Regions from separate parts of the Homo sapiens genome. Here regions 2 and 3 are each linked to region 1. Evidence: fine-mapped expression QTL. A gene starts in region 1. Each other region holds a variant in brackets. All regions are shown on one strand. Distances are between the middles of the regions. Region 1 holds the start of ZNF124 (zinc finger protein 124). Region 2 has its middle 14 kb from the start of LINC02897. Region 3 has its middle 26 kb from the start of LINC02897.

Evidence for each region. PIP is the estimated chance that this variant, and not a neighbour inherited with it, causes the effect.
Region 2: its variant is the best candidate, but not a certain one, in a credible set for the expression of ZNF124 in putamen (Braineac2, PIP 0.84).
Region 3: its variant is the best candidate, but not a certain one, in a credible set for the expression of ZNF124 in visceral fat (GTEx, PIP 0.68).

What each region holds. Positions count from the first base shown.
Region 1 is chr1:247,167,174-247,177,711 of GRCh38, reverse strand. It overlaps ZNF124 (zinc finger protein 124), which reads left to right and starts at 5,692. Exons shown (of 4, transcript NM_001297568.2): 1 at 5,692-5,864. The coding sequence starts at 5,835. RefSeq lists a silencer at 1,931-2,225.
Region 2 is chr1:247,121,513-247,132,050 of GRCh38, reverse strand. It overlaps a transcript of ZNF124 not described here. Among named protein-coding and RNA genes, the nearest start is that of LINC02897, 14 kb to the right of the region's middle. The variant G/A (reference allele first, on the strand shown) is at 3,764.
Region 3 is chr1:247,132,650-247,143,187 of GRCh38, reverse strand. It overlaps a transcript of ZNF124 not described here. Among named protein-coding and RNA genes, the nearest start is that of LINC02897, 26 kb to the right of the region's middle. The variant A/G (reference allele first, on the strand shown) is at 6,711.

The DNA of each region.
Region 1 (10,538 bases):
TTTTACTTGATGAATCTGGCAACTTCACTATGAATCACAGGATTTACAATAATATGGTACTGACCTGGGAGAAACAATATAGAAGAACATAATCAGAGAGCTTATCTGTAGGTGGGTCAGAGTGCAAAGGACTATTGGGTCCTACCTGATACATTAAAAACTGATCAATCTAAATGCACATCTCAGCCCTCACTGTGAGAAGTGACAGCCATGGGTGGCTGGGGCTGAGGGTGAAGCTCCCGAGCCCTCTCAGGAAACAGATAATGCAGATCAAGTTCATCCTTATGTTGGCTTTCACCTCGGACTATTCTAAATATTGTAAGTCCCAGGTATTTACATAATTATGAATAATGATGGGAAAAATTTACCATTGAATGAACAAGAAACGAAAGACTGATTATAAAGTCTTGAGCTTAATCGACACCTCTGAAGAAAAGAGGAGTGTACTAGAATGAAAAACCATTTACACAAATCCACAAGCAATTTTACATGCAATTAATGTGTTCTTTGAAAAAAAAGTATCCCGTGTTTTGTTTTATTAATAAAAATGTCATTGTTATTATACACAAGTAACAGCCAGCATTTTAAAACCTATGACTGGTCATTGATAACATAAAATGATCATGAGAATTTCATGTTAAAAGTCAAAGAGGAGATGGCTAATGCATGCTGGGCTTAATACCTAGGTGATGGGTTGATAGGTGCGTGGGCCCAGACTCCCCTTTTCTCTGTGATTGGAGTGGATGCCAAGAGTGAGGAGAAGCCAGACAGTGGGAGCGAGCACTTCCAAGCCTGTGGGGGTGGGGGAACCTTCCTGAGCCCTCCAGAGTGCAGAGATGCCTGGGTCTGCAGCCATGGCGGCTGTGCCCAGGAGGATGGGCCTCCTGCCTGCTCCAGCTCCCAAGAGCACAGGGATGCCCAGCTCACCTATGGGTCAACCCCCAAGAACATTTATAATTTCTCTAGAATGGCATAACCCTTCCAAAAGCTGACGGGGACCTTGGGAATCTTCTTCCAGAGGGTCCTGGGTCAGGGATATTGGCCTGGCTGTGAGACAGACAACCTCCTACCCTCCCTGTGCCTCCTGGGCCAAGACGTGGAAGCCTCATCAGGATGCACTGCCACTGGCAACAGGCCAAGAACGGGGTCTGCTTGGGGGGCGCAGGTGGTTCGGGGGTCCCAGGAGAATTGAGAACTTCCTGCAGACAAGATGCCTCTTTTTCCTCATTTTTGGTCCAACTGATACACTGGATAGTGAGATAAACCTTACATTTTAATTTTTATGTATTTTTTCATTATATGCAAAATGTATACTTAAACAGACAGTGGATTTGAAGGGAAAAGTATTTGAGATTCATTCTTTCAAGTGTCATTTAGTCCTATATACATAGGTTTATATATATTATATATATAGTGTATATATATAGCATATATAGTAATGTATATATGTAGTGTATAGTATATATGTAGTGTATATATACTATATATGTGTATATATAGTATATATGTATATATGCATACATATGTATATAGTATACATGCATACATATGTATATAGTATAGATACATATATAAATATATATGCTATATGCTATATATAGGACTATATATATATACACATACACACACGCGTATATATATAGTCCTATATACATAGTCCTATATACAGATTTGCCCTATGTGTAACAACTACGTAGATAAAAAAGTTATGAAATTGTTTTTGGTTTTACAATGCTATATTAAAAACATTGAAATTCACCAATTGAACAATCTATGCAAGGGTATTATGGTTTTTTGTTATTGTTGTTTAAGTCCTGAAATACAGAGATAAGAGCTGAGTGAGCAGCCACTGGTGGAGAAACAGTCTTCACGGGGCCAGTATTTTTCTGCCCCGTCTCATTTGGCTGCGGATCAACACATGTCATTTAGTACAAACAAGCAAACAAAAATAGCAATATGCTTGTGTGCCTACCCCAGATGCTTTATGTGCAATAATGAAATGAGGAAGGGGAAGATAAGAGAATGGAGAAAAGGATACTGTACCAGCCAGAATGTGGAGTCAGAATGTGGTGTCAGAATGTGGAGTCAGAATGTGATGAAATCACATTGTGGGTTTCTACATGAGAATGTCTGCTGGAGTTGTAGGAAGAGGTCCTGGGTAAAGGAGCAGGTGTGTTCTTAGAAGGCCCTCCTGTCTGCTGCTGGAACACATCACCTGTTTATTCGTCCTCCATTTCCCGCTTTGCAGGTGTGTCAGTTTCACTGAGTGACCGTCCGTAAAATCCAAATCTGATTTGCTTCATGGCCAAACCCTGCCATTCACCATAGGCTTCCACTCCTTCATTCAGTGATGTGTACTTCTTCCCCTTCAACTGCGCCCCAGAACCATCCTACCCTCCACCTTCAAATTCACAGAATTGTTGTTCTGTCTTGACTCAAACTTTTTTCCTGCCACAGCAGAGCACTGAAAGTCTCTTAAGTTACAGCTTCACAACAGAAGTCTAAAGTCTGCGCAGAACTAGCACATCTGCAGCCGTAGGAGCAGCAGAATGACCAGGCAGCAGAGCTTTATTCCATGTTTTCATCTCCATTCCTACAACAGCAGCGGCAGCAGCAACAACTGCTACTACTTCTAATTGTGGTAAAAATACTTAGAATAATAATGCATAATGACAATTGTAGTTGACATTTTTGGTTTATATATGATTATTTGTAATGTTCTACAATTTACCTTTAGTAATATACACATAACTTTTGCATAAACATCAGGACCCTAAAACACCACACCTGATGATTGAATCTCACCTATGGACCTAAGGTCTTCACATGCTGGTGCAGGCCCTCTCACCACTCCATCTCCAAACAGAGGATATGGTCCACCTTCTGAGTCAATATAGTAGCCCTGACACTCACATGATCTATTTGAGGTCTTGGAAAACAAGCTTGCCTTGTTAAAAATCAAAGGATGGGCCGGGCACGGTGGCTCACGCCTGTAATCCCAGCACTTTGGGAGGCCGAGGCGGGCTGATCACGAGGTCAGGAGATGGAGACCATCCTGACTAACACGATGAAACCCCATCTCTACTAAAAATACAAAAAAATTAGCCGGGCATGGTGGCCGGCGCCTGTAGTCCCAGCTACTCGGGAGGCTGAGGCAGGAGAATGGCGTGAACCCGGGAGGCGGAGCTTGCAGTGAGCCGAGATCACACCACTGCACTCCAGCCTGGATGACACAGCGAGACTCCATCTTAAAAAAAAAAAAAAAAAAAAAAATCAAAGAATGGCTTCAAATTGTAGTCAGCTGTTTCGTTAAATTGCAGCAGGAAGAAATTTTTCTCAGCAGGTCTATTTTCATGTCACTTGCTTTCAGAGTAAGAGGTTATTTCAGACACAGTGGTTTGATTTAGTCTTTGTTGAAAATCATAAATAGCCTACAAACAACAAAAAGGGATGAATAGGATTTGCGTTCATGTGGAGTGCGTCATCTGTGCTTTTAAATTTATCCTATGAAAAGAAATAAAAAATATGTAATATCGAACATTGGTTTCCTAAATTAGCAAATCGACCATTTCCTCAAGTTATTCCACGTTCTTCCAAGATGTGTCAGAAGCATTCTCTGGAGGCAGTTGTTCCAAATGGTGAAGAGTACTAGATGGATCCCAATCTCACAGGATTCTTGCTTCTATTGCAGAAGAGTTACTTTCCAGGACTTCAAAGGTTTAGAGAAGCTGCTTGATTCGTGTGGCTTGCAGAGGTGCATGGGCTTTGGAGTCACGAAAAGTTAATCCTGGTCCCAGCCCAGCCTCTTAGTAGCTGTGAGGCTTTGCACAACTTCCTTGTCTTGGAAAGTTATATAAACCTCATCTGCAAGAAAAGGCATGATACTGATTGCAAAAATGGCAGCAACTCTTCATCCCTTCCTGTATTTATGCCCTTTGTGATGTGCTTTTATAGCTGCTTTCATTGAGAGGCAGAATCTGTTTCCCAAACCTTGAATCTCACTGGCCTTATTTGCTCTGGCAGTAGAAAGCTGTGAATATGACCATGTGCCAGTTTGGGGCCGAGGCACAAAAGCTCTTGAATGCTTCTGCTTTTTATTTCACAACCCTGTCATCTCCATAATAACAAGTCCATGTTAGCCTGCTAGAGGATGAGATACTATAGGGAGGAAAACCAAAGTGCCACAGTTGACAGGCAGCTCACCCTCAGAAGCAGCATTGCCTAGTCAACCAGCAGCTGACCACACGTGCCTGAAAGGGCCCAGCAGAGACCAGAAGAATGGCTCACTTGAGCCCAGCCTAGAAGGTGGACCAGCTCAATCTAATACGTTTTGGGGAATTTTACTGTGAAGCAATAGGTAATACGTACACCTAGTGCAGACAGGATGCCAGGATTCAATGACATGTTGATTGCAATTTACCAGGCAAACACAAGGCACCCTGTATGTACTGATTTCCTTTTCCCTTTATGTAAAGTTGGATTTCTGGTTAGACGGTGTTGAGCCATACAGAAGTGCACGTAGACATGCATGTGATTTGTGCTTAAACTCACACACTTAAATTCCACACCACAGGAGGAAACAGAAAACCACAGCCTGACCATTAGGGCCAAAGCCAAATTGCAAAATGAGAAGTTTGTCTTTAATGTATTCCCTCTACATCTAAAGTCCTGAGGTTAAGGCTGTGGACAAATCTGAAGACATGGGTTTTCTTCTCCTGGGGCCCCTCATCTTTTTTTCACTGTCTTATCTATAGAAGAGGCTGGGCCCCTGGCAAGAGCAGGTGGGAAATAGTAGACTCCCTCTAGATACTTCTTTATTGCAGCCCACTTCTCTCTCTGGGCACTGTCTCTGCCACCCTTGGGCCTGAGGAGAGATGTTAGCAGAAGGAGGGCATTCCCTCACCTCTAGCAGAAAAGAGGGGTTCGGGCCCTTCACTCCCTGAGGTCAGGGGAACCAGAGCCCTCAAAACTGCACTTCAGTGTGACAGTCATTGCCCACAGGGGTCTACTTAGCACCTAGAATGTGGCTGGTCTGAATCGGTACATGCTGGAAGTTTAAAACGCAGAGTGACTTTGAAAGATTTAGTACCAAAAAACAGAACAACAAAAAATACTTCATTAATATTATATTTATCATATATTTAAATTATAATATTTTGTATATATTGAGTTAAATAAAGTATTGCAATCAATTTTACCTGTTTATTCCTCGTTTCTGTTGCTACTAGAAATTTTAAAATGACACCTGTGGCTCACATGTGATTTCTGTGGAAATCGCAGCCTTGGAGGATTGCTTCCCTTTTCAAAACTCGGGCTCCTCAGACTGCTTCCTCAGAAGACCAGAGGCCATGAAGGTTAATAAGTCTGAAATTTTAAAAGAATTATTATTATATTGTTTCCTATTTTAAATATCATATATATTATTCACAAATGAATGTAACATTGTATACAAGGTTAAGTGTATATAAATGAATGTCCCCTAGGCAAGGCTGGGTCCCAACCCAGAGAGGAAACCCTCTTGGAGAAGAGCTGTAGCCAGAACGCTGCCTCATTCAGACACGCGCGGGAGCTGTCACCTGTCACTAAGAGTCTGAGGGGGCGGGGCCTGAGGCCCTACCCAATCAGGGGCACCGGGGCGGGGACTGCCTAATCCGGCGCTCCGCTAGAAAACCCGAGGCGGCTTCCGGGTGTGCCCGGCCTTTGTCTCTCGTGCCCGCACGTGCGTGTCTCGGTCAGTAGCCCTGCGCTTCTCCTTCACTCTCGGCGGTTCAGGAGGCTCTGCCGCAGCCGGGGCCCTCCTGTGACCTGCATGTACTGGGGGATTCGCAGGGAGGATGTCGGGACACCCCGGAAGCTGGGAAATGGTGAGTTGCGCCGCCGGGGGTCTGGAGAAGGGAAGGGGCTGTGGCGGCCCCGGGCCCCGGGCTCCCAGCGGTCGGCTCCCGAGGGCGGACCCGGGTCCCTGCTGGCGCGGCGCGGCGCGGCCCTCGGTCCTTTCTGGCGCCCGGCAGAGCTGGGCGGGCAGCGGCACCCCGGGCTCCGGTCCCGTCTCTGCACCGCGACTTCCGTCCTGCCCGAAGCAGCTTCCCTCCCCGGCCCGCGCCCGCAGCCCCGCGGCTCCTCGGGATCCTGCAGTGAGACCCGAGGCGCCTCAGGGGAGAGGCCCAGCGCGGTGTGCGGGCTCGCGCCTGCGAGGAGCTGTGGCCACTGGCGTTTCCAGTCCCTCCTTAATCCTGTTAAAAATTAAACTGAGGTTTAATTAAAGCGTTACAGAGTTTGAGCAAACAGCGATTCATGAGTAGGGGAGCACCCAGCCACGGTTTTTGGTTTGTGGGCCACCGGACGGTCTTGATGGAAAGGCTTCTGTAAAGTGTGTAAGGAAACAAACCAAATTTATTTATTTTTTATTTTAATGATCGGGTGGGGCGGGGGGGGGGTCTCCCTGTGTTGCCCAGGCTGGTCTTGAACTTCTGGTCTCAACCTCCCGAAGTGCTGGGATTACCCCGCCCAGCCCAAAGCAACCCCAATTTAATAACTGATTGGTTATAATTATGTAGTTCTGTTATTCGGATTATTTAGGTGGATGGTTCCTGGTTATGTAATCAGAGGTAAATTGCTGATTTGGGGTTAAGTTTTCTTTCCCTTCAAGTTAATTACAAGAAAGGCATGAAGTACCTTTAGGTTTTCTTGGTGAGGAACTCAGGGCACCATCATCACTTAAGGGAGGAGACCACCCCTCATATTGTCTTATGCCCAATTTCTGCCTCCAAAGAAAGAAGAAGTAAAAACTAAAAGGCAGAAATGAAATCCACAGGCAGACAGCCCGGCGCCGCGTCCTGGGCCTGGTTACAGATTGACCCTTGACCTGACCGGTTGTGTTATCTATAGATTCCAGACATTGTATGGAAAAGCACTGTGAAAATCCCTGTCCTGTTCTGTTCCGTTCTGATTGCCGGTGCATGCAGCCCCCAGTTATGTACCCCCTGCTTGGTCAATCGATCACGACCCTCTCACGTGGACCCCCTTAGAGTTGTAAGCCCTTAAAAGGGACAGGAATTGCTCACTTGGGGAGCTGGGTTTTTGGAGACGTGAGTCTTGCCAAAGCTTCCGGCAGAATGAAGCCCTTCCTTCTTTAACTCGGTGTCTGAGGGGTTTTGTCTGCAGCTTGCCCTGCTACAACTTCAGTCTAATTTCTTCCTATTTAATTATTTCCACAAGGGTACTGGTTTCCCCTGCATTTCCCAAATGTAAGGCAAGCAGGGTCTCAAATCCATGACCGTATTCCCCAGCCTAACTTCTAGAACTTGCAGTAAAATTCTAAATTTCCAGTTTCTTCCTCATACTCTCAAACTCCAACTTCACCTCTCCAATTTACAACATTATTAATTATTTGTTCTTTATTGTGCATTTGAACCAGATGCAGTAATGTAATTGTTTATCATGTTTTCACTGAGCAGTGAGGAGCTGTTTCTGAACATTCCTTGTGAAAACAGAGAATAATCACCTGATCTAGTCCACTATAAAAAATTCTTTGTACCTCTCCTCCTTTTGTCTTCCCTAGGCACACTCACAAACGTCTTTGGATGGAGGTTTCCCTTTGGAACCTTCACGTGGTGTTGTGTCCTCAGCCACCCTCCTGTCTTTTCTGGGTCCTGGGTTCAAAACTGTTTGAGGATGACCTAATGTGCCCACACTGGCCCTGTCTCTTGGAGTGTCATAAATAGTGAATGTCAGCTGTTGGGTCCTCTTCTCCCAGAAGACAAGGTGAGGTTTAGGGGTGGAGCCTCTCAGAGGAGCAGCTGGATGGCATGAATCCCCTGGGACCGAGAGGAGTCTCCTGGGATACTCTTCTATACTCTTCCTCTAAAAAGCTAATCCACTAGGACTTAGATTTTTTTTTCTTCTCTTACCCCCGTTATCACTCCTTAGAGACAAAATGCTGGTCAGGCAGTCGGATACTGGTATTGAGGGAAGAAAGAATTTCTGCCCTCTGGATTGTCTCATGCTTGTGAAGGGAGAACAGCTATTCCAAAGTACAAGGAAACCCCGCCCCGCAGTGAGGCAGGAACCTGAAAAGCAAAATGCATTTGGGGCACAGTGGGGACACGGCACAGGTTTCTGGGGGAGGGTGGGCATTGAGTACTTCCCTGAGCAGGATGGGGTGGGAGGACACAGTGGGGACACTGGGAGAGACACTGGTGTCATCCAATCCAATGCTGGTATTTTGAGGGAGAGACAGAAATGATTCCTGCCCTCTGGATTCTTTCACACTTGTGAAGGGAGAAAAACAACCTTAAAGAACAAGAAAATTTCTTCCCAGGAAGATGACACAAAAACCTGCCAAGCAAACTGCACCTTAGGCACACAGTGGGCCACAGTGCATTGCGCTGGGAGGTTGGTCCTTGAGTACGTGGTCTCTCCAATGAGGAGACCGGGGACCAGGGAATCTCCTGCTTGAGAGATGGTCTTACTTGACATGTGAGTCAAACATATCTGTGTTCCAGTTAGCGCTGCTCCTCCCTGGGCTGTCCTCTTGCAAAGCTTTGTTCATTTATTGGTGCCTTAGGTAAACATAAAATGTATTTCATCAATAGAGCTTTAAAGATAAAATATTTACAAAGAGGCAAAGAAAGAAGTGGATATTTTAAATATATGTAGATATTTTAAATCCACTTTATATATATATTTAGTTTTTTAATTAAAAAAATTTTTAATGTTATATCAATACATTTGGGGTAGCAGGTGGTTTTTGGTTACAAGGATAAGCTCTCTAGTGGTGATTGCTGAGATTTTGGTCCTGTCACCTTATCAGTGTACGCTGTACCCAATATGCAGTCTCACCCCCTCCCACCCTTGCCCCCAAATCACCAAGGTCCATTATATCATTCTTATGCCTTTGTAACCTCATAGCTTAGCTCCCACTTATAAGTGAGAACATAGAATATTTGGTTTTCCATTCCTGAGTTACTTCACTTAGAATAATGCCTCCATTTCCATCCAAGTTGCTGCAAAGCCCATTATTTCATTCCTTTTTATGGCTGAGTAGTATTCCACCACATTTTCTTTATCCCCTCATTGGTTGATGGGCATTTTAGGTTTGTTTCATATTTTTGCAGTGGCAAATTGTGCTACTGTTAACATGCGTGTGCAAGTGTTTTTGTTTGTTTGTTTTTTAATTGAGACAGAGTCTCACTCTGTTACCCAGGCTGTAGTGCAGTGGCACGATCTTGGCTCACTACAACCTTCCGTCGCCTGGGTTCAAGGGATTCTCATGCCTTAGCCTCCCAAGTAGCTGGGACTACAGGCATGCACCATCACGCCCAGCTAAATTTTTTTTGTATTTTTAGTAGAGACAGGGTTTTGCCATGTTGGCCAGGCTGGTATCGAACTCCTGATGTCAGGTTATCCACCTGCCTCAGCCTCCCAAAGTGCTGGGATTGCAGGCATGAGCCACCACGCCCAGCCGTGTTTTTTTCATATAATGACTTCTTTTCCTTTGGGTACATACCCAGTAGTGGCATTGCTGGATTGAATGGTAGTTCTACTTTTAGTTCTTTAAGGAATCTTCATACTGTTTTCCATGGCGGTTGTACTAGTTGACACTCCCATCAGCAGTGTAGAAGTGTTCCCTGTTCACCACATCCACACCAGCATCCCAGCATCTATTGTTTTTTATTTTATGATTATGGCCATTCTTACAGGAGTAAGGTGGTATCTCATTATGGTTTTAATTTGCATTTCCCTGATAGTGATGTTGAGCATTTTTTCATATTTATTGGCTATTTGTATATCTTCTTTTGAGAACTATTCATGTCCTTTGCCTACTTTTTTGATGGAATTTTTTCTTGCTGATTTGAGTTTTTTGTGAATTCTGGATATTAGTCCTTTGTAGGATGCATAGTTGGTGAAGATTTTCTCCCACTCTGTGGGTTGTCTGTTTACTCTGCTGATTATTTCTTTTGTTGTGCAGAAGCTTTTTAATTTAATTAGGTGCCATTTGTTCATTTTTGTTTTTGTGCATTTGCTTTTGGGTTCTTGGTCATGAGTTCTTTGCCCAAGCCAATGTTTAGAAGAGTTTTTTTGATATATTTTATTTTCATTCCCCTGAGTGTATGTGGTAACTTTTTGAGGTCTCGTCTCTTCTTTTGGGTAGTTTCAAATGAAATTCTAGGGCTTTTAATCAGGAATGCTACCAGGGAAGAGAAATAGGAAAAATCTCTCTTCCTTTATGATTACAGAAAGTGAATACATTTCCACACACAAAAGTGTGGTACATAAATTGGTGAATTACAAAAATTAACCAAAACATCAGTTTGTTTCCTGCAGGATGAAGAATTTGTTAGAGTGGGTAAGTCTGTGCTGTTTTCTGTTGCCTGCATTTGGCACATTAATGCTAAATCTGTACAGCAACCTTGCCCGATCACTGTGGCCAGGATTTCCAATACTGTGTTGAATGGGAGTGATAAAAGCAGAGGTTCTCTACCGCTCTTTCCTGATCTTGGGAGAAAAGGGTTTTTTTGCTTGTTTGTTTTGGTATT
Region 2 (10,538 bases), 46 kb after region 1:
ACCTCAAGGGACACCAACCGGATGCCAGTAGCATCACTCCTGAATAGGGTGTCTGACAACCCCTGTTGGAGGGTCTCACCCAGTTGGGTGGCACAGGGAAAAGGACCCGTTTAATGAAAGACTTTGTCCCTTGGTGGAGAGGGTGTGCTTCACTGGGGGGAAACCCACTCACCTAGGCTGCCAAGATTCCTCAGAACTACCAGGAGGAGAGGCTAAGTCTGCTGGTCAGCAGAGACTGCGGCCACCCCTCCCCCTAGGGGCTCAGGCCTAGGGAGATCCAAATTCTGTCCCTGAGCATCTGGCTGGAGTTATTGGAGACCCTCCAGGGAAGCCCCACCCAATGAAGAAGGGATTAGGCCTGAAGAGGCACTCTGGCTGCAAACTGCCACAGCCGGTGTATTGGGCTGTAGGGACAGGTCTTGGGACCTAGCTGTACAGCCTCCCTGGCTAAAGCAGGGGAAAAGTGCAGCCTGGAGCTATAGAAATGGGTGCCAACCTCCTCCCGTCCAGGGAGCTTAGCACGTTAGGCAGTTGGAGTCCCAGTACTGGCTGCTGCCCCTCCCCAAGGAACTCAAATGGCTTAGACAGCAGGCAGCCACGGCCAGTGCTGGTTGCCCCTCCCCCTGGGAGTTGGGTAGGCTTAAGTAGATTCCAGCTGAAAGGCTGTAAGAATCTGGGCGTTCCAGGGTTGGGACGGCAGGCCTCGGTGGCGTGGGTTTGCGAGTGGGATCTTCCAATCCGTGGGTTGCACAGCTCCATGGAAATAGCAGTTTCCCCAGCTGGGTAGCGCACTCACTCACTGCCTCCCTGGGCTGGAGGAGGAGGCTCCCCTTCCCCGCCTGGCTCTCAGGTGGGCCGCAGCACCACACTGTTCTTCCTTCTCTCCATGGGTCACACCATCCTTCTAGTCAATTTTGATGAGAGAACCTGGTTGCTGGTGAAGGATTCACATGCTTATTATGAGTTTTTTAGTTTGTTTGTTTTGTTTTGATTGTCGCCCAGGTTGGGGTGCAATGGCATAATCTCAGCTCACTGCAATCTCCACCTCCTGGGTTCAAGCGATTCTCCTGCCTCAGCCTCCCGAGTAGCTGGGATTACAGGCATACGCCACCACGCCCAGCTAATTTTTCGTATCTTTAGTAGAGATAGGTTTCACCATGTTGGTCAGGCTGGTCTTGAACTCCTGACCTCATGATCTGCCCACCTCGGCCTCCCAAAGTGCTGGGATTACAGGCGTGAGCCACCGCGCTTGGCCCCCACTTTGTTTCAAATGAAAAAATACTCAGTGTTTGAAGAGTCCAGCAAAATCACTCAAACTCTGCTTTTATGTATGTTGGAGGGAATAAAATTGCAAGGCACTTACATTTCATACCTCAACAGGGAAAGCAGAAGTATTCCTTTCATACAATAAACAAGTCATGTAATTATTTACATGATAACATATTATTTCATAAAGAAATTATTTCGATGTTAACACATCTAAAAATGCCAAGTCCCCACCCACAGATTTGCCATTAAACTTGGACATCCAGGTAACAGGAAACAGAGTCATCCACTGTCACAGAATCTCCGCTCGGCACAAAGGTGGAACTGATGCTTTAGTGAGCTTCTGTTAGTGAGTATACTTTCTTGTGAAAACGTATTTTTCTGCAGCCATAATGGAAGACAGTGTCCCTATTTTTCCCTGGTAGCATTCCCAAAGCTAAGCCCTGGAATTCGGGTTGAAACCACCCCCAGAAAAGAACAAACCTGTGAAACTTACTACACTCCCTCTGGGCAAGAAAAAAGCCATTTAAGAATTTTTAACAAATGAAATATATGACTAGATATCTAATATTTTTCTGATATACACCTCTTTCTTGGCCTTTTGAAAATATTATCTCTCAAGCTGTACTGATAAAATGTATTTTTCAATCAGCGAAAAACTGAAGTTAAAATAAGTGAACAAGTATTTTCAAGGTGACAAACGAGTAGCAGTACTGACGAGCACGGACATGGCTGACTCAAGGGTCAAGTCAGACCATCCCATCTCCTGAATCCTCCCACCCCATCCTGCTCGGGGAAGTACTCAATGTCCACCCTCCCTCTCATCTCCTGAATCCTCCCACCCCATCCTGCTGGGGGAAGTACTCAATGTCCACCCTCCCTCTCATCTCCTGAATCCTCCCACCCCATCCTGCTCGGGGAAGTACTCAATGTCCACCCTCCCTCTCATCTCCTGAATCCTCCCACCCCATCCTGCTGGGGGAAGTACTCAATGTCCACCCTCCCTCTCATCTCCTGAATCCTCCCACCCCATCCTGCTCGGGGAAGTACTCAATGTCCACCCTCCCTCTCATCTCCTGAATCCTCCCACCCCATCCTGCTGGGGGAAGTACTCAATGTCCACCCTCCCTCTCATCTCCTGAATCCTCCCACCCCATCCTGCTCGGGGAAGTACTCAATGTCCACCCTCCCTCTCATCTCCTGAATCCTCCCACCCCATCCTGCTCGGGGAAGTACTCAATGTCCACCCTCCCTCTCATCTCCTGAATCCTCCCACCCCATCCTGCTGGGGGAAGTACTCAATGCCCACCCTCCCTCTCATCTCCTGAATCCTCCCACCCCATCCTGCTGGGGGAAGTACTCAATGTCCACCCTCCCTCTCATCTCCTGAATCCTCCCACCCCATCCTGCTGGGGGAAGTACTCAATGCCCACCCTCCCTCTCATCTCCTGAATCCTCCCACCCCATCCTGCTGGGGGAAGTACTCAATGTCCACCCTCCCTCTCATCTCCTGAATCCTCCCACCCCATCCTGCTGGGGGAAGTACTCAATGTCCACCCTCCCTCTCATCTCCTGAATCCTCCCACCCCATCCTGCTGGGGGAAGTACTCAATGCCCACCCTCCCTCTCATCTCCTGAATCCTCCCACCCCATCCTGCTGGGGGAAGTACTCAATGTCCACCCTCCCTCTCATCTCCTGAATCCTCCCACCCCATCCTGCTGGGGGAAGTACTCAATGTCCACCCTCCCTCTCATCTCCTGATCCTCCCACCCCATCCTGCTCGGGGAAGTACTCAATGTCCACCCTCCCTCTCATCTCCTGAATCCTCCCACCCCATCCTGCTGGGGGAAGTACTCAATGTCCACCCTCCCTCTCATCTCCTGAATCCTCCCACCCCATCCTGCTGGGGGAAGTACTCAATGCCCACCCTCCCCCAGAAAACTGCGCCGTGTCCCCACTGTGCCCCAAATGCATTTTGCTTTTCAGGTTCCTGCCTCACTGCGGGGCGGGGTTTCCTTGTACTTTGGAATAGCTGTTCTCCCTTCACAAGCATGAGACAATCCAGAGGGCAGAAATTCTTTCTTCCCTCAATACCAGTATCCGACTGCCTGACCAGCATTTTGTCTCTAAGGAGTGATAACGGGGGTAAGAGAAAAAAAAAAATCTAAGTCCTAGTGGATTAGCTTTTTAGAGGAAGAGTATAGAAGAGTATCCCAGGAGACTCCTCTCGGTCCCAGGGGATTCATGCCATCCAGCTGCTCCTCTGAGAGGCTCCACCCCTAAACCTCACCTTGTCTTCTGGGAGAAGAGGACCCAACAGCTGACATTCACTATTTATGACACTCCAAGAGACAGGGCCAGTGTGGGCACATTAGGTCATCCTCAAACAGTTTTGAACCCAGGACCCAGAAAAGACAGGAGGGTGGCTGAGGACACAACACCACGTGAAGGTTCCAAAGGGAAACCTCCATCCAAAGACGTTTGTGAGTGTGCCTA[G/A]GGAAGACAAAAGGAGGAGAGGTACAAAGAATTTTTTATAGTGGACTAGATCAGGTGATTATTCTCTGTTTTCACAAGGAATGTTCAGAAACAGCTCCTCACTGCTCAGTGAAAACATGATAAACAATTACAATACTGCATCTGGTTCAAATGCACAATAAAGAACAAATAATAATGTTGTAAATTGGAAAGGGGAAGTTGGAGTTTGAGAGTACGAGGAAGAAACTGGAAATTCAGAATTTTACTGCAAGTTCTAGAAGAGTTAGGCTGGGGAATACGGTCATGGATTTGAGACCCTGCTTGCCTTACATTTGGAAAATGCAGGGGAAACCAGTACCCTTGTGGAAATAATTAAATAGGAAGAAATTAGACTGAAGTTGTAGCAGGACAAGCTGCAGACAAAACCCCTCAGACACCGAGTTAAAGAAGGAAGGGCTTCATTCTGCCGGAAGCTTTGGCAAGACTCACGTCTCCAAAAAACCGAGCTCCCCAAGTGAGCAATTCCTGTCTCTTTTAAGGGCTTACAGCTCTAAGGGGGTCCGCGTGAGAGGGTCGTGATCGATTGAGCAAGCAGGGGGTACGTGACTGGGGGCTGCATGCACCGGCAATCAGAACGGAACAGAACAGGACAGGGATTTTCACAGTGCTTTTCCATACAATGTCTGGAATCTATAGATAACACAACCGGTCAGGTCAAGGGTCAATCTGTAACCAGGCCCAGGACGCGGCGCCGGGCTGTCTGCCTGTGGATTTCATTTCTGCCTTTTAGTTTTTACTTCTTCTTTCTTTGGAGGCAGAAATTGGGCATAAGACAATATGAGGGGTGGTCTCCTCCCTTAAGTGATGATGGTGCCCTGAGTTCCTCACCAAGAAAACCTAAAGGTACTTCATGCCTTTCTTGTAATTAACTTGAAGGGAAAGAAAACTTAACCCCAAATCAGCAATTTACCTCTGATTACATAACCAGGAACCATCCACCTAAATAATCCGAATAACAGAACTACATAATTATAACCAATCAGTTATTAAATTGGGGTTGCTTTGGGCTGGGCGGGGTAATCCCAGCACTTCGGGAGGTTGAGACCAGAAGTTCAAGACCAGCCTGGGCAACACAGGGAGACCCCCCCCCCGCCCCACCCGATCATTAAAATAAAAAATAAATAAATTTGGTTTGTTTCCTTACACACTTTACAGAAGCCTTTCCATCAAGACCGTCCGGTGGCCCACAAACCAAAAACCGTGGCTGGGTGCTCCCCTACTCATGAATCGCTGTTTGCTCAAACTCTGTAACGCTTTAATTAAACCTCAGTTTAATTTTTAACAGGATTAAGGAGGGACTGGAAACGCCAGTGGCCACAGCTCCTCGCAGGCGCGAGCCCGCACACCGCGCTGGGCCTCTCCCCTGAGGCGCCTCGGGTCTCACTGCAGGATCCCGAGGAGCCGCGGGGCTGCGGGCGCGGGCCGGGGAGGGAAGCTGCTTCGGGCAGGACGGAAGTCGCGGTGCAGAGACGGGACCGGAGCCCGGGGTGCCGCTGCCCGCCCAGCTCTGCCGGGCGCCAGAAAGGACCGAGGGCCGCGCCGCGCCGCGCCAGCAGGGACCCGGGTCCGCCCTCGGGAGCCGACCGCTGGGAGCCCGGGGCCCGGGGCCGCCACAGCCCCTTCCCTTCTCCAGACCCCCGGCGGCGCAACTCACCATTTCCCAGCTTCCGGGGTGTCCCGACATCCTCCCTGCGAATCCCCCAGTACATGCAGGTCACAGGAGGGCCCCGGCTGCGGCAGAGCCTCCTGAACCGCCGAGAGTGAAGGAGAAGCGCAGGGCTACTGACCGAGACACGCACGTGCGGGCACGAGAGACAAAGGCCGGGCACACCCGGAAGCCGCCTCGGGTTTTCTAGCGGAGCGCCGGATTAGGCAGTCCCCGCCCCGGTGCCCCTGATTGGGTAGGGCCTCAGGCCCCGCCCCCTCAGACTCTTAGTGACAGGTGACAGCTCCCGCGCGTGTCTGAATGAGGCAGCGTTCTGGCTACAGCTCTTCTCCAAGAGGGTTTCCTCTCTGGGTTGGGACCCAGCCTTGCCTAGGGGACATTCATTTATATACACTTAACCTTGTATACAATGTTACATTCATTTGTGAATAATATATATGATATTTAAAATAGGGTACAATATAATAATAATTTTTGTATCTTTAGTAGAGACGGGTTTCACCATGTTGGTCAGGCTGGTCTCGAACTTCTGACCTCATGATCCGCCCACCTCAGCCTCCCAAAGTGCTGGAATTATAGGTGTGAGCCACTGTGCCTGGACTATTACATTTTCTAGAATTTTATATGAATACAATTGTACAATATTTACTTTTTTTCCCCAGTGAAAATAGCTTTTATTCAAATGTCCTTACTTTTATCTGGATTATTTTACTTGGACTAATTAATATGAGATCCAGCCACATTGCTGCATGTAGTTTAAATGGGTGAATTCTATGCTGTTTGAATCCTCTCTCAATAAAGTTGTTACCAAAAACTCAATGAGATACCACTGCATTCCCAGTAGGATGACTAAAATGAAATAAATAAACAGATGGCTGGGTGCGGTGGCGCCTTTAATCGGCGCCGGCGCCGATCACGAGGTCAGGAGTTGGAGACCAGCCTGGCGAATGTGGTGAAACCCCGTCTCTACTAAAAATGCAAAATTTAGCCGGGTGTGATGGCAGACGCCTGTAATCCCAGCTACTCAGGATGCTGAGGCAGGAGAATCCCTTGAAACGGGAAGGCAGAGGTTGCAGTCAGTGGAGATCTCCAGCCTGGGCGAAAGAGGAAACTCTGCCTCAAAAAAAAAAAAAAAAAAAAAAAAAAAAAAAAGACAAAAACAGGTGTCGGTGAAGATACGGAGAAATTGGAACCCTCACACCCTGCTGGTGGGATTGCATAATGGCGCAGCCACTCTGGAAAACAGTCTGGCAACCCCTCTAAAATTCAAACATAGAGGTACCATTTGACCCAAAAACTCCACCCCCAGGTACAGATACACAAGAGAAATTAAAACATCCACAAAAAAGCTAGTACACAAATGTTCACAGCAGCAGCATTCGTAACAGCCAATGTGTGAAAAAGTCTCCAGTGTCCGTCAGAGGATAAAATGTGGTCTATCCTTGCAATGAAATCTTATTCACCCATAAGAAGGAATGAAGGCCGGGCGCTGTGGCTCATGCCTGTAATCCCAGCACTTTGGGAGGCGTAGGCAGGTGGATCACTTGAGCCCAGGAGTTGCCAGCCTGGGAAACATGATGAGAGCTCGTCTGTACTAAAAATGCAAAAAAATAAAAAAATAGCCGGGCATGGCGGTGTGTGCCTGTAGTCCCAGCTATTGGGAGGCTGAGGTGGGAGGATCACCTGAGCCTGGGGAGGTCGAGGATGCAGTAAGCCATGATCACACCACTGCACTGCAGCCTGGGTGACAGAGCGAGACCCTGTCTCTAAAACAAAAGGAATGAAATGCTGATACATACTACAACATGAATGAACCTTGAAAGTATTTGGCTAAGTAAAAGAAGCCACATACACACACACACAAACCCCACATATTGCGTGATTTTATTTTTATATGAAATGTCCAGAATTGGCAAATAGAGACAGAAAGTAGATTAGTAGATTAGACAGAAAGTTGCATAGGCTGGGGGGAAAGGAGTTGGCTGCTACAGGATGCAGAATTTCTTTATGGGGTGATCATCTCAAATTGACTGTGATGATGGTTGGGCAACTCTGTGGATGTACTAAAAGCCACAGAATCAGAGCCGGGCGTGGTGGCTCACGCCTGTAATCCCAGCACTTTGGGAAGCCGCGGCGGGTAGATCACAAGGTCAGGAGTTTAAGACCATCCTGGCCAACATGGTGAAACGCTGTCTCTACTAAAAATACAAAATTAGCCACATGTGGTGGCCTGCACCTGTAATCCCAGCTACGCAGGAGACTTAGGCAGGAGAATCGCTTGAACCTGGGAGGTGGAGGTTGCAGTGAGCCAAGATCACACCTTTGCACTCCAGCCTGGGCGACAGAGCGAGACTCTGTCTCAAAAAAAAAAAAAGCCACAAAATCATTCATTTTAAATGGCTAAATTTTACGTGTGTGATCCCAATAAAGCTATTAACAAAAAATGGCTCACGTAGGCCGGGCGCAGTGGCTCACGCCTGTAATCCCAGCACTTTGGGAGGCCGAGGCGGGCGGATCATGAGGTCAGGAGATCAAGACCATCCTGGCTAACACGGTGAAACCCCGTCTCTACTAAAAATACAAAAAATTAGCCGGGCGTGGTGGCGGGTGCCTGTAGTCCCAGCTAAAAGCACATCACAAAGGGCATAAATACAGGAAGGGATGAAGAGTTGCTGCCATTTTTGCAATCAGTATCATGCCTTTTCTTGCAGATGAGGTTTATATAACTTTCCAAGACAAGGAAGTTGTGCAAAGCCTCACAGCTACTAAGAGGCTGGGCTGGGACTCAGGATTAACTTCGTGACTCCAAAGCCCATGCACCTCTGCAAGCCACACGAATCAAGCAGCTTCTCTAAACCTTTGAAGTCCTGGAAAGTAACTCTTCTGCAATAGAAGCAAGAATCCTGTGAGATTGGGATCCATCTAGTACTCTTCACCATTTGGAACAACTGCCTCCAGAGAATGCTTCTGACGCATCTTGGAAGAACTTGGAATAACCTGAGGAAATGGTCGATTTGCTAATTTAGGAAACCAATGTTCGATACGTGTGTGATCCCAATAAAGCTATTAACAAAAAACGGCTCACGTAGGCCGGGCGCAGTGGCTCACGCCTGTAATCCCAGCACTTTGGGAGGCCGAGGCGGGCAGATCACAAGGTCAGGAGATCGAGACCATCCTGGCTAACACGGTGAAACCCCATCTCTACTAAAAATACAAAAAGTAGCCGGGCGTGGTGGTGGATGCCTGCGGTCCCAGCTACTCAGGAGGCTGAGGCAGGAGAATGGCATGAACCCGGGAGGCGGAGATTGCAGTGAGCCGAGATCGCGCCACTGTACTCCAGCCTGCGTGACAGAGCGAGACTCCGTCTCAGAAAAAAAAAAAAAGAACATAATATGTGTATTGTGTCTCATGTACACTGTTGAAGAGGTAGCAGCCCATGATTGATGAAATAGTCCAGTGATCTTATGAGATACAAGTTTGTTTTCATGTTCTCTCTCTGACATTGTCTATGCTTAGTTATTGTGTTCATGCTTATTCCTTCATGGTCCAAGTTGGCTGTCCCACCTCCAGGCATCAAACCACATTCCAAACAGCAACCAGGAGGAAATAGTAAGCTGATAGGTCATGGGGAATTAGGTTGGAAGCCATTGCTTTTTAATTTACAGAAGTCCATTCTCCCCAGGCACTTCTTTCTAAGTCTCATTGATCAGAACTCAACCACGTGGCCACCATCAGCAGAAACATCTCTCTGTAGCACCGTGAAACACATGAGAACATAACTGGGGATGACCGTTGTTACTTGAACTATTTTGAAAGATCTGACATAAAGGTCATCGCCTTGTGCACTTCAATGGGTGTTACTGCAAAACTCCCAGGGCTAGGCATGGCGACATACACCCGAAATCTCAGCTATCTGGGAGGCTGAGGTGGGAGGATTGCTTGAGCCCACGAGTTTGAGGCTGAAGTGTGCCTGTGAATAGCTACTGCACTCCAGTGCCTAGGACACATAGGGAGACCTCACTTTTTTATGGCTGCATAGTATTCCATGGTAAAGAAATGTACCACATTTTCTTTATCCACTTCACTGTTGATGGGCATTTATCCACTTCACTGTTGGTGGGAATTTAGGTTGAATCCATGTCTTTGCTATTGAAGTCACACTTTTTAATCAAGTTATTTAACTTTCCTGTGTTCATTTGTGTTATATACCAGAACATTTTTATTTCTATGGTTTTAATGCCACCTAATATGATTATCAATGTGTCATTCTCCATAAATCATTGTGTTATACATGTTAAACGATTAGGTATTAAGTGTATAGGTATAAATCACTTAGAATAATGACTAACACATTGTATGAACTAAATAAGTACTGATTCATCTGATTCATCAAATTTCCATTATTCATACCATTCATTATTTATTAAGTGGTGTAGTATTTGTTCTTATCAACATTTGCTTTTCTGTCCTATCTAAATATTAATGAAACAGTGGATGTGGGCTCAGTGTGCTGTCTTGAAATAATCCAAAGTCAAATGGCATGCTTCACTGGTTTCCTTTAGATGCAATAACTCATTTGACTCACACAATAAAAATGAGTATTAAGTATATCAGCTATCCTTATATTTGTCATGCTACAACAGAGAAAACTCTGGGTCACTGGGCACCGTGGCTCACGCCTGTAATCCCAGCACTTTGGGAGGCCAAGGCAGGTGGATTGCCTGAGCTCAGGAGTTCAAGACTAGCCTGGGCAACATGGTGAAACCCCGTCTCTACTAAAGTACAAAAAATTAGCCGGGTATGGCAGCAGGCACCTGTAGTCCCAGCTACTCGGGAGGCTGAGGGAGGAGAATTGCTAGAACCTGGGAGGCGGAGGTTACAGTGAGCCAAGATCATGCCACTGCACTCCAGACTGGATGACAGAGCAAGATTTTGTCTCTTAAAAAGAAAAGAAAAGAAAACTCTTGGTCATTCACTGATGACACCAAAGCCCTACCCTCATAAATCTTCCATGTCGACTGCCCAGAAAACCTAAAAACGTGGAAACTATGGAATACTACAAACGCAGAA
Region 3 (10,538 bases), 35 kb after region 1:
GTATATTATTGAATTAGGCCCATTTACTGGAATTATAAACTGCTATCCAACTACACAAAGAGCTGAGGATTCTGGGGAGGTCAGGATGGAGATGAAATAGAAGTGAGGAGAAAATAGCTCTCTCTCTCACATGCAGATTCTTTATGGATAAAATGCATAATTACCTAAAATTTAAAATACTCAAAAAATTATCTAATCAGTATGTAATGGAAATTATAGAGCAAAGAACAAAACAAACACCAAAATAATTTTCTTTTTTCTACATAAAAATTAAATAATTTACATAATGAAATATTCCATGATCCCAGTGTAAAATGCCAATAGAATATATGTAAAAAAAAAAAAAGACAATACCTGTATTAGATTTAAAATCTTCTACAATACATAAGATGAATTGAAATTTTTAGAGTAGAAGAAAGTTTAAAATTAGGTAAATGATATGAGCCAGGTGAAGAATAGGATCATTAAGCATTTAATATACCTTGTCTTAGATTCTGTGTAAGAAAATGAAAAGTAAAAACAATGGCATGGTGATTTCATCAAACTGAAAAAATAGAAGCATTTCTCCAGAGAGAATGCTATTAAAGGTTGGTGAATATCAATCTTCTGAGGACTCGGCCTGGGAGAGTGAAGAGCTACAGCCTTTTCTGAGTTCAAGTGGGGAAGATATAAATATATATTCATTTTGCTACTCTTTTTAATATACAAACATATATGAATGATTACACCCTAATAATATTTTCTGATTTACAGAAATGCATGACTGTCATAAGACAGCCAAAAGACATCAGATGTCTTATATGAAATACAAAATTTGTCAGTAATCAGCCTTAAAGAAAACTGGGTTTACCATTTTCAGTATATTGTTCAAATTCCTTTTCTACAACCACCACAGGTTCTGTTATTAACATGGTGTGTCTAAAGTTGTCACTGCTGGTCATCCAGAAGAATCTGAGAAGCAGCAAGTCTTTGTTTTCACTCCCAGACCTGTTTTCTTTGCTGAATAGGGTCAGGAGACCCCCAGGTCAAGCTTCATCTCATCTATAGATAGGCTGAGTTACCTTTGGTCCAAAAAAGGGCTGGTCCTATCTTTCTCCCAGAAGGAGCTCTGGACTTCTCCAGCCAGGGCTGGACCCTGGCACAAGTCAGGGTGGCTGAGATTCCCAGCCCTCAGCAGGGAACCCAGGCCACCTGGGAGTCCATGGTGTAGAAGTTCTGCACTGCAGCACAGAGGCCCCCAGAGCTGGCAAGCTAAGAGAGCTGCTCCCAGGTCAGCAGAGAATGGACCTACTGTGCTTGTGTCTGAACTAGGTCTTGATAAATGGCCTCAGACTTACCATAGAGGTCACCAGGCTTTTCAGAACTGGCAGCAGGTGGTCTCCTGGGGACTGAGATATGGGCTGCTTGCTGCACCCAGTGCGGACCCTTGGGGATCCACTATGGCAGGCATCACAGGTCTTCTCAGTTTTGCTGCTGTAGGGCCCCCAGCTCATGAACACAGAACAGTCACCTCTCCCATGGCTGAGCATACCCACCAGTAGTGGCCCAGAGTTTCCCCATGGAGAGGCTCCCAGAGGCATATGACAGCCCCTCTGCCATTGCCACAGTAATAGTTCTATCCCTGCTGCCTTTGGTCTGGGGAAGAAACAAAGAACCTGAGAGCTACACCCAAGCTTAACAGCATACCACCACAGCCACCATACCGAGAGACTAGTCTTTTCTCCCTGTGAGCCTTCATCCCATTGCTCCCCAACAAGCAGAACCCCAAGCTTATGCCAGCAGTGCAGGTGCCCCACCCACCAGCTGAACACCCCCAGTAACTATGGTTCTGCATTTCTTGGAGGTGGAGCCCCCAGGAGCAAACAAAAGCCTTGCTACCGCTGTCTGCAGTGGAACTGCCCTTGCTATCCTCAGACAAATGAATGAACAAATACCATAAGTGCCTTATCCACACCTACAACAAACTGCAGTTGACCCAAGGAGAGGAGACCAGTTCATCTCCCACAGGTTCCACCCACTCCCCCTGCTTGTCACCAGATAGGAAACCCTGGGCTTGGTCCCACAGCACAGACCCTCCGTTCTGGGCTGATTGCACTTAGCAATTGCTAACCGGCTCCTCTTGGGTGGAGCCCCCAGGAGACAAGCAAAAGACCTTTGGCCACAACCACTATTAAGGTCCCTTCCTCTGCTGCCTCCAAGCCAGGGGAGGAACATAAGCCCTGAGAGTGCCCCAGAGCTGTGGTGGGCAGCCCAAGAGTGCCAAGCCACAATTTATAGCCAGCATTCAAGTGGGAGAGAAGCCCACACTTTCAGAACATTGAGAGGGAGCATGACTGCAACTGTCAGAAAATATAGGGGAGCCACATGACCAAGCAAGAGCCTACCAACTAACCAGTATGCCTAAGCACCACCTACTGGATCACATCCCGAAGTTCCAACACCAAAAACACCTTGCTAGCATTCCCCTCTGTGAGACCAAAGACAAGTCAGCTACAAATGAAGACCCTGCACAAAGCCTTGGCTCTGCGAAGACATCCAGAAAAAAAAGTGTACTGACTGTACTCAATCTACACTGCAGTTACAGGAACACCCACCTGCAGACATGAGAAAGAACCAATGAAAGAACTCCAGTAACTCAAATGGCCAGAGTGTTGTATGTCCTCCAGATGACCACACCAGTTTTTCAACAAGGGTTCTTACTCAGGCTGAGCTGGCTGGAATGACAAATGGAATTTAGAATATGGATAGGAATTAAGATCATCAAGATTCAGGAAAATGCAAAACCCAATCCAAAAAAACTAAGAATCACTGGAGCTGAAAGACAAGATAACTGATATAAAAAAGAGCCTGATGGTTCTGACAGAGCAGAAAAACACACTACAAGAATTTCATAATGCAGTCACAAGTATTAACAGCAGAATAGACCAAGTGGAGGAAAGACTCTCAGAACATGAAGACTGGCTCTCTGAAATAAGACAGTCAGAAAAATTAAAAAGAATAAAAAATAACAAAACTTCTGAGCAATATGGTATTTTGTAAAGTGGCCAAATCTATGAATTATTGGCATCCCTGAAAGGGATGGGAAGAAAGCAAACAAGTTGGAAAACATTCTAGGATATCATCCACGAAAACTTCCCCAACCTTGGTAGAGAGGCCAGCAGTCACATTCAGGGAAACCAGAGAACCCCTGCAAGATTCTACACAATAAAATCATCCCCAAGACACACAATAATCAGATTTTCCATGGTCAAAATAAAAGAAAGACTGTTAAAGGCAGCTATACAGGGCAGGTCACCTACAAAGGTCACCCCATCAGGCTAACAGCAGACCTCTCAGCTGAAACCCTATAAGCCAGAAAAGACTCAGGGCCTATATTCAACATTCTTAAAGAAAAAAATCTTCAACCAAGAATTTCATACCCAGCCAAACTAAGCTTCCTAAGTGAAAGGGAAATAAGATCCTTTTCAGACAAGCAAATGCTGAGGGAGTTCATTACCACCAGACCTGCCTTATGAGAGATCTTGAAAGGAGCACTAAATATAGAAAGAAAAATCTGCTACCAGCCAATACAAAAACACACTTAAATACACAGATCAGTGACACTATAAAGCAACCACACAAACAAGTCAGCATAATAACCAGCTAACAACATGACAGGATCAAATCCACACATATTAATACTAATCTTGAATGTAAACAGGCTAAATGCCCTGCTTAAAAGGCGCACAATGGCAAGCTCCATAAGAAGGCAAGACCTGATGGTATGTTGCCTTCAAGAGACCCATGCAGTGACCTAGGATCAAAATAAAGAGATGGAGAAAAATCTGCCAAGCAAATGGAAAACAGAAAAGCAGGGGTTACAATCCTAGTTTCTGACAAAACAGATTTAAACCAATAAAGATTTAAAACAACAAGGGTATTACATAGTGGTGTGAACCGTGAAAATTTGAGATGGGTCTCAGTAATTTAGAAAGTTTATTTTGCTAAGGTTGAGGACACGCATCCATGACACAACCCCAGGAGGTCCTGACAACATGTGCCCAGGGTGATCGGAGCACAGCTTGGTTTTACACATTTTAGGGAGACATGAGACATCAATTAACATATGTAAGATGAACATCGGTTCAGTCCAGAAAGGCAGGACAACTCAAAGCAAAAGCAGGACAACTTGAAGTCGGGAGGGAGCTTTCAGGTCATCGGTAGATAAGAGACAATGGTTGCATTCTTTTGAGTTTCTGACTAGCCTCTCCAAAATGAGGCAGTCAGATATGCATTGATCTCAGTGAGCAGAGGGTTAACTTTGAGTAGAACGGAAGGCAGGTTTGCCCTAAGCAGTTCCCAGCTTGACATTTCCAGTTATTTGTTACTGTCAATCATGTTCACACTCAGCTTTAAACAATTTGCCAATTACACTTTCAATTTTCCTACAGATGTACTGGTTCATGAAGATGTGCTTATGGGTTTCTACTCTAGTAAGTTTTGGGTCTATGTATGTACCTTTCTTTCTCTGCACTCTTGGGGCAAGGAATTGCCATGTGATTGATCGGAGAATTGTTCATTTTAAATTAGTCCAGAATTTTTATGTTTTATTTCTTCTAAAACAAACGAAAACGGGATACGTGTAGAACATGTGAGTTTGTTACATGGGTATACATGTGCCGCGGTGGTTTGCTGCACCTATTGACCTGTCCTCTAAGTTCCCTCCCCTCACCCCCCAACCCCCAACAGCCCCTGGTGTGTGTTGTTCCCCCTCTGTTTCCATGTGTTCTCAATGTTCAGCTCTCACTTATGAGTGAGAACGTGCAGTGTTTAGTTTTCTGTTCCTGTGTTTGCTGAGGATGATGACTTCCAGCTTCATCCATGTCCCTGCAAAGCACATGATCTCATTCCTTTTTATGTCTACATAGTGTTCTATGGTATATATATACACATATATATATACACCACATTTTCTTTATCCAGTCTATCATTGATGGGCATTTGGGTTGGTTCCATGTCTTTGCTGTTGTAAATAATGTTGCAATAAACATACGTGTGCACGTGTCTTTATAGTAGAATGATTTATATTCCTTTGGGTATATACCCAGTAATGGGATTGCTGAGTCAAATGGTATTTCTGGTTCTAGATCCTTGAAGAATCGCCACACTGTCTTCCACAATGGTTGAACTAATTTACATTCCCACCAACAGTGTAAAAGCGTTCCTATTTCCCCACAGCCTCACCAACATCTATTGTTTCCTGACTTTTTAATAATCACCATTCTGACTGGCATGAGATGGTATCTCATTGTTTTGATTTGCATTTCTCTGATGATCAGTGATGTTGAGCTTTTGTTCATGTGTTTGTTAGATGCATAAATGTCTTCTTTTGAGAAGTGTCTATTCATATCCCTTGCCCACTTTTTGATGAGTTTTTTGTTTTTTCTTGTAAATATATTTAAGTTCCTTGTAAATTCTGGATATTAGACCTTTGTCAGATGGATAGATTCCAGAAATTTTCTCCCATTTTGTAGGTTGCCTGTTCACTCTGAGGACAGTTTCTTTTGCTGTGCATAAGCTCTTTAGTTTAATTAGATCCAATTTGTCAGTTTTTGCTTTTGTTGCAATTGCTGTCGGCATTTTTGCCATGAAGTTGCCCACGCCTATGTCCTGAGTGATATTCCCTAGGTTTTCTTTCTTTTTTTTTTTTTTTTTTTTTTTGTATTTTTAGTAGAGACAGGGTTTCGCTATGTTGGCCAGGCTGATCTCGAATGCCTAACCTCATGATCCACCCACCTTGGCCTCCCAAACTGCTGGGATTACAGGCACGAGCCACTGCACCTGGCCTCCCTAGGTTTTCTCCTAGGGTTTTTATGGTTTTGGATTTTACATTTAAATCTTCAACCCATCTTGAGTTAATTTTGGTATAAGGAAGCAGTCCAGTTTCCATTTTCTGCATATGGCTGGCTAGTTTTCCTAGCACCATTTACTGAATCAGAGATCCTTTCTTCATTGCTTGTTTTTGTCAGGTTTGTCGAGGATCAGATGGTTTTAGATGTGTGGTGGTATTTCTGAGGTCTCTGTTCTGCTCCGTTGGTCTATATATCTGTTTTGGTACCAGTAGCATGCTATTTTGGCTGCTGTAGCCTTGTAGTATAGTTTGAAGTCAGGTAGCATGATGCCTCCAGCTTTGTTCTTTTTGCTTAGGATTGTCTTGGGTATATTGGGTCTTCTTTGACTCCATATAATTTTTTTTTTTTTTTGAGATGGGTCTGACTCTGTTGCCCAGGCTAGAGTGCGGTGGCATGATCTTGGCTTACTGCAACTTCCAACTCCTGGGATCAAGTGATTCTCTTGCCTCAGCCTCCCCAGCAGCAAGGATTATAGGTGCACACCACCACGCCTGGCTAATTTTTGTATTTTTAGTAGAGATGGAATTTCACCATGTTGGCCAAGCTGGTCTCAAGCTCCTGACCTCAAGTGATATACCCGCCTTGGCCTCCTAAAGTGCTGGGATTACAAGCATGAGCCACTGTGCCTGGCCAATTTCACATGAAATTTTAAATAGTTTTTGCTAATTCTGTGAAGAATGTCAATGGTAGTTTGATGGGAATAGCACTGAATCTGTAAATTACTTTGGGCAGTGTGGCCATTTTTGTGATACTGATTATTCCTATCCATGAAGATGGAATTTTTTCCATTTGTTTGTGTCCTCTCTTACTTCCTTGAGC[A/G]GTGGTTTGTAGTTCTCCTTGAAGAGGTCCTTTACATCCCTTGTTAGCTGTACTCCTAGGTATTTTATTCTCTTTGTAGTGATTGTGAATGGGAGTTCATTCATGATTTGACTCTCTGCTTGCCTATTGGTGTAACCAAATGCTTGTGATTTTTGCACAGGGATTTTGTATCCTGAGACTTTGCTGAAGTTGCTTATCAGTTCAAAACGTTTTGGGGCTGAGATGATGGGGTTTTTCAAATATAAAATTATGTCATCTACAAACAGACTTCCTCTCTTCCTATTTTAATACCCTTTTATTTCTCTTGCCTGATTGTCCTGGCCAGAACTTAGGAGTGGTGAGAGAGGTCATCCTTGTCTTATACCAGTTTCCAAAGGGAATACTTCCAGCTTTTGACTATTTAGTATGATATTGGCTGTGGGGTTGTCATAAATAGCTCTTATTATTTTGAGATATGTTCCATCAATACCTCGTTGATTGAGAGTTTTTAACATGAGAGGATGTTGAATTTTATTGAAGGCCTTTACTTCATATATTGAGAGAATCATGTGGTGTTTGTCTTTGGTTCTCTTTATCTGATGGATTATGTTTATTGATTTGCATGTTAAACCAGCCATGCATCCCAGTAATGAAGCTAACTTGATCGTGGTGAATAAGTTTTTTGATGTACTGCTGGATTCAGTTTGCCAGTATTTTCTTGAGGATTTTTGCATTGACGTTCATCAGGGTTATTGGCCTGAAGTCTTCTTTTTTTGTTGTGTCTCTGCCAGGTTTTGGTATCAGGATGATGCTAGCCTTATAAAACGAGTTAGGGAGGAGTCCTTCCTTTTCAATTGTTTGGAATAGTTTCAGAAGGAATGGTATCTGCTCCTCTTTGTATTTCTGGTAAAATTCTGCTGTGAATCCATCTGGTCCTGGGCTTTTTTTGATTGGTAGGCTATTAATTACTGCCTCAATTTCAGAGCTTGTTATTGGTCTACTTAGGGATGTGACGTCTTCCTGGGTTAGTCTTGGTAGGAGTCCAAGAATTTATCCATTTCTTCTAGATTTTCTAGTTTATTTGCATTGAGTGTTTATAGTATTCTCTGATGGTAGTTTTTATTTCTGTGGGGTCAGTGGTGATAACTCCCTTTATCATTTTTTATTGTATCTTTTTGATTCTTCTCTCTCTTATTAGTCTAGCTAGTGGTCTATTTTGTTAATTATTTCAAATAACCAGCTCCTGGGTTTGTTGATTTTTTTGGAGGGTTTTTTGTGTCTCTGTCTTCTTCAGTTCTTATCTTAGTTCTTTCTTGTCTTCTGCTAGCTTTTGGAATAGTTTGCTCTTGCTTCTAGCTTTCTGATGTAGGCATTTAGTACTATGATTTTTCCTCTTAACATTGTTTTAGCTGTGTCCCAGAGATTCTGGTACATTGTCTCTTTGTTCTCATTGGTTTCAAAGAACTTCTTGATTTCTGCTTTAATTTTATTATTTACCTAGCAGTCATTCAGGAGCAGGTTTTTTGATTTCCATGAAATCGTGTGGTTTGGAGTGAGTTTCTTAATCCTGAGTTCTAATTTGATTGCACTGTGGTCCGAGAGACTATTATGATTTCAGTTCATTTGCATTTGCTAAGAAGTGTCTTACTTCCAATTATGTGGTTGATTTGAGAATAAGTGCCATGTGGCACTGAGAAGAATGTATATTCTATTGATTTGTGGTAGAGAGTTCTTTAGACATCTACTAGGTCACTTGATCCAGAGCTGAGTTCAAGTCCTGGATATCCTTGCTAATTTTCTGTCTCATTGATCTAATACTGACAGTGGGGTGTTAAAATCTCATACTATTATTACACAGGAGTGTAATTCCCTTTGTAGGTCTGTAAGAACTTGTTTTATGCATCTGGGTGCTCCTGTATTGGGTGCATATATATTTAGAATAGTTAGCTCTTCCTGTTGAATAGTTCCCTTTACCATTATGCAGTGCCCTTTTTTGTCTTTTTTGATCTTTGTTGGTTTCAAGTCTGTTTTGTCAGAGACTAGGATTGCAATCCCTGCCTTTTTTTTGCTTTACATTTGCTTGGTAAATATTCCTTCATCCCTTTATATTGAACCTATGTGTGTCTTTGCACATAAGATAGGTCTCCTGAATACAGCACACTGATGAGTCTTGACTCGTTATCCAATTTGCCAGTCCAAGTCTTTTAATTGGGGCTTTTAGCCCATTTACATTTAAGGTTATTATTATTATGTGTGAATTTGATCCTGTTGTCGTGATGCTATTTTGTTATTTTGCCCATTAGTTGATGCAGTTTCTTCATAGTGTCATTGGTCTTTATATTTTGGTGTGTTTTTGCAGTGGCTGGTACCAGTTTTTTCTTTCCGTATTTAGTGCTTCTTTCAGGAGCTCTTGCAGCACGGGCCTGGTAGTAACGAAATCCTTCAGCATTTGTCTGGAAAGGATTTTATTTCTCCTTCACTTATGAAACTTAGTTTGGCTGAATATGAAATTCTGAGTTGAAAATTCTTTCCTTTAAGAATGTTGAGGCTGGGCGCCGTGGCTCATGCCTATAATCCCAGCACTTTAGGAGGCCGAGGTGGGTGGGTCACCTGAGGTCAGGAGTTTGAGGCCAGCCTGACTAACATGATGAAACCCTGTCTCTACTAAACACAAAAAACTTGCCGGGCATGGTGGTGCATGCCTGTAATCCCCGCTACTTGGGAGGCTGAGGTGGGAGAATCGCTTGAACCTGGGAGGTGGAGGTTGCAGTGAGCTGAGATCGCACCACTGCACCCCAGCCTGGGTGACAGAGTGAGACTCCATCTCAAAAAAAAAAAAAAAAAAGAATATTGAATATTGATTGAATATTGGCTCCCTATCTCTTCTGGCTTGTAGTTTCTGCTGAGATGTCTACCGTTAGTCTGATGGGCTTCCCTTTGTAGGTGACCTGGCCATTCTATCTGGCTGCCCTTAACAGTATTTCCTTCATTTTGACCTTGGAGAATTTGCTGATTATGTGTCTTGGGGTTGTTCTTCTTGAGGAGTATCTTAATGGTGTTCTCTGTATTTCCTGAATTTGCATGTTGGCCTGTCTTGCTAGGTTGGGGAAGTTCTCCTGGCTAATATCCTGAAGTGTGTTTTCCAGTTTGTTTCCATTCTCCCTGTCTCCTGCTGGTACTCCAGTCAATCATAAGTTCAGTCTTTTTATGAAGTCCCTTATTCCTTGGAGGCTTTGTTAATTCTTTTTCATTTTTTTTTCTCTCTTCTTGTCTGCATGTCTTATTTCAGTAAGGCAGTCTTCATCTTTTCTGAATGTCTTATTTCAGTAAGGTGGTCTTCACACTCTGATATCCTTTCTTCCACTTGGTCAATTCAGCTGTTGATACTTGTGTGTGCTTCATGAAGTTCTCATGCTGTGTTTTTCAGGTCCACCAGGTCATTTGTGTTCTTCTCTAAACTGGTTATTCTAGTTAGCAATTCCTTTTGTAGCAGGAGGAGCCACAGACAAAACTCCTCAGACACCGGGTTAAAGAGGGAAGGAGCTTTATTCAGCTGGGAACTTCAGCAGACTTGCGTCTCAAAAGCCAAGCTCCCTGAGTGAGCAATTCCGTCCCTTTTAAGGGCTCACAACTCTAAGGGGGTCTGCGTGAGAAGGTCGTGATTGATTGAGCAAGCAGGGGGTATGTGACTGGGGGCTGCATGCACTGGTAATCAGAACGGAACAGAACAGGACAGGGATTTTCACAGTGCTTTTCTATGCAATGTCTAGAATCTATAGATAACACAACCGGTTAGGTCAGGGGTCGATCTTTAACTACCAGGCCCAGGGTGTGGCACCGGGCTGTCTG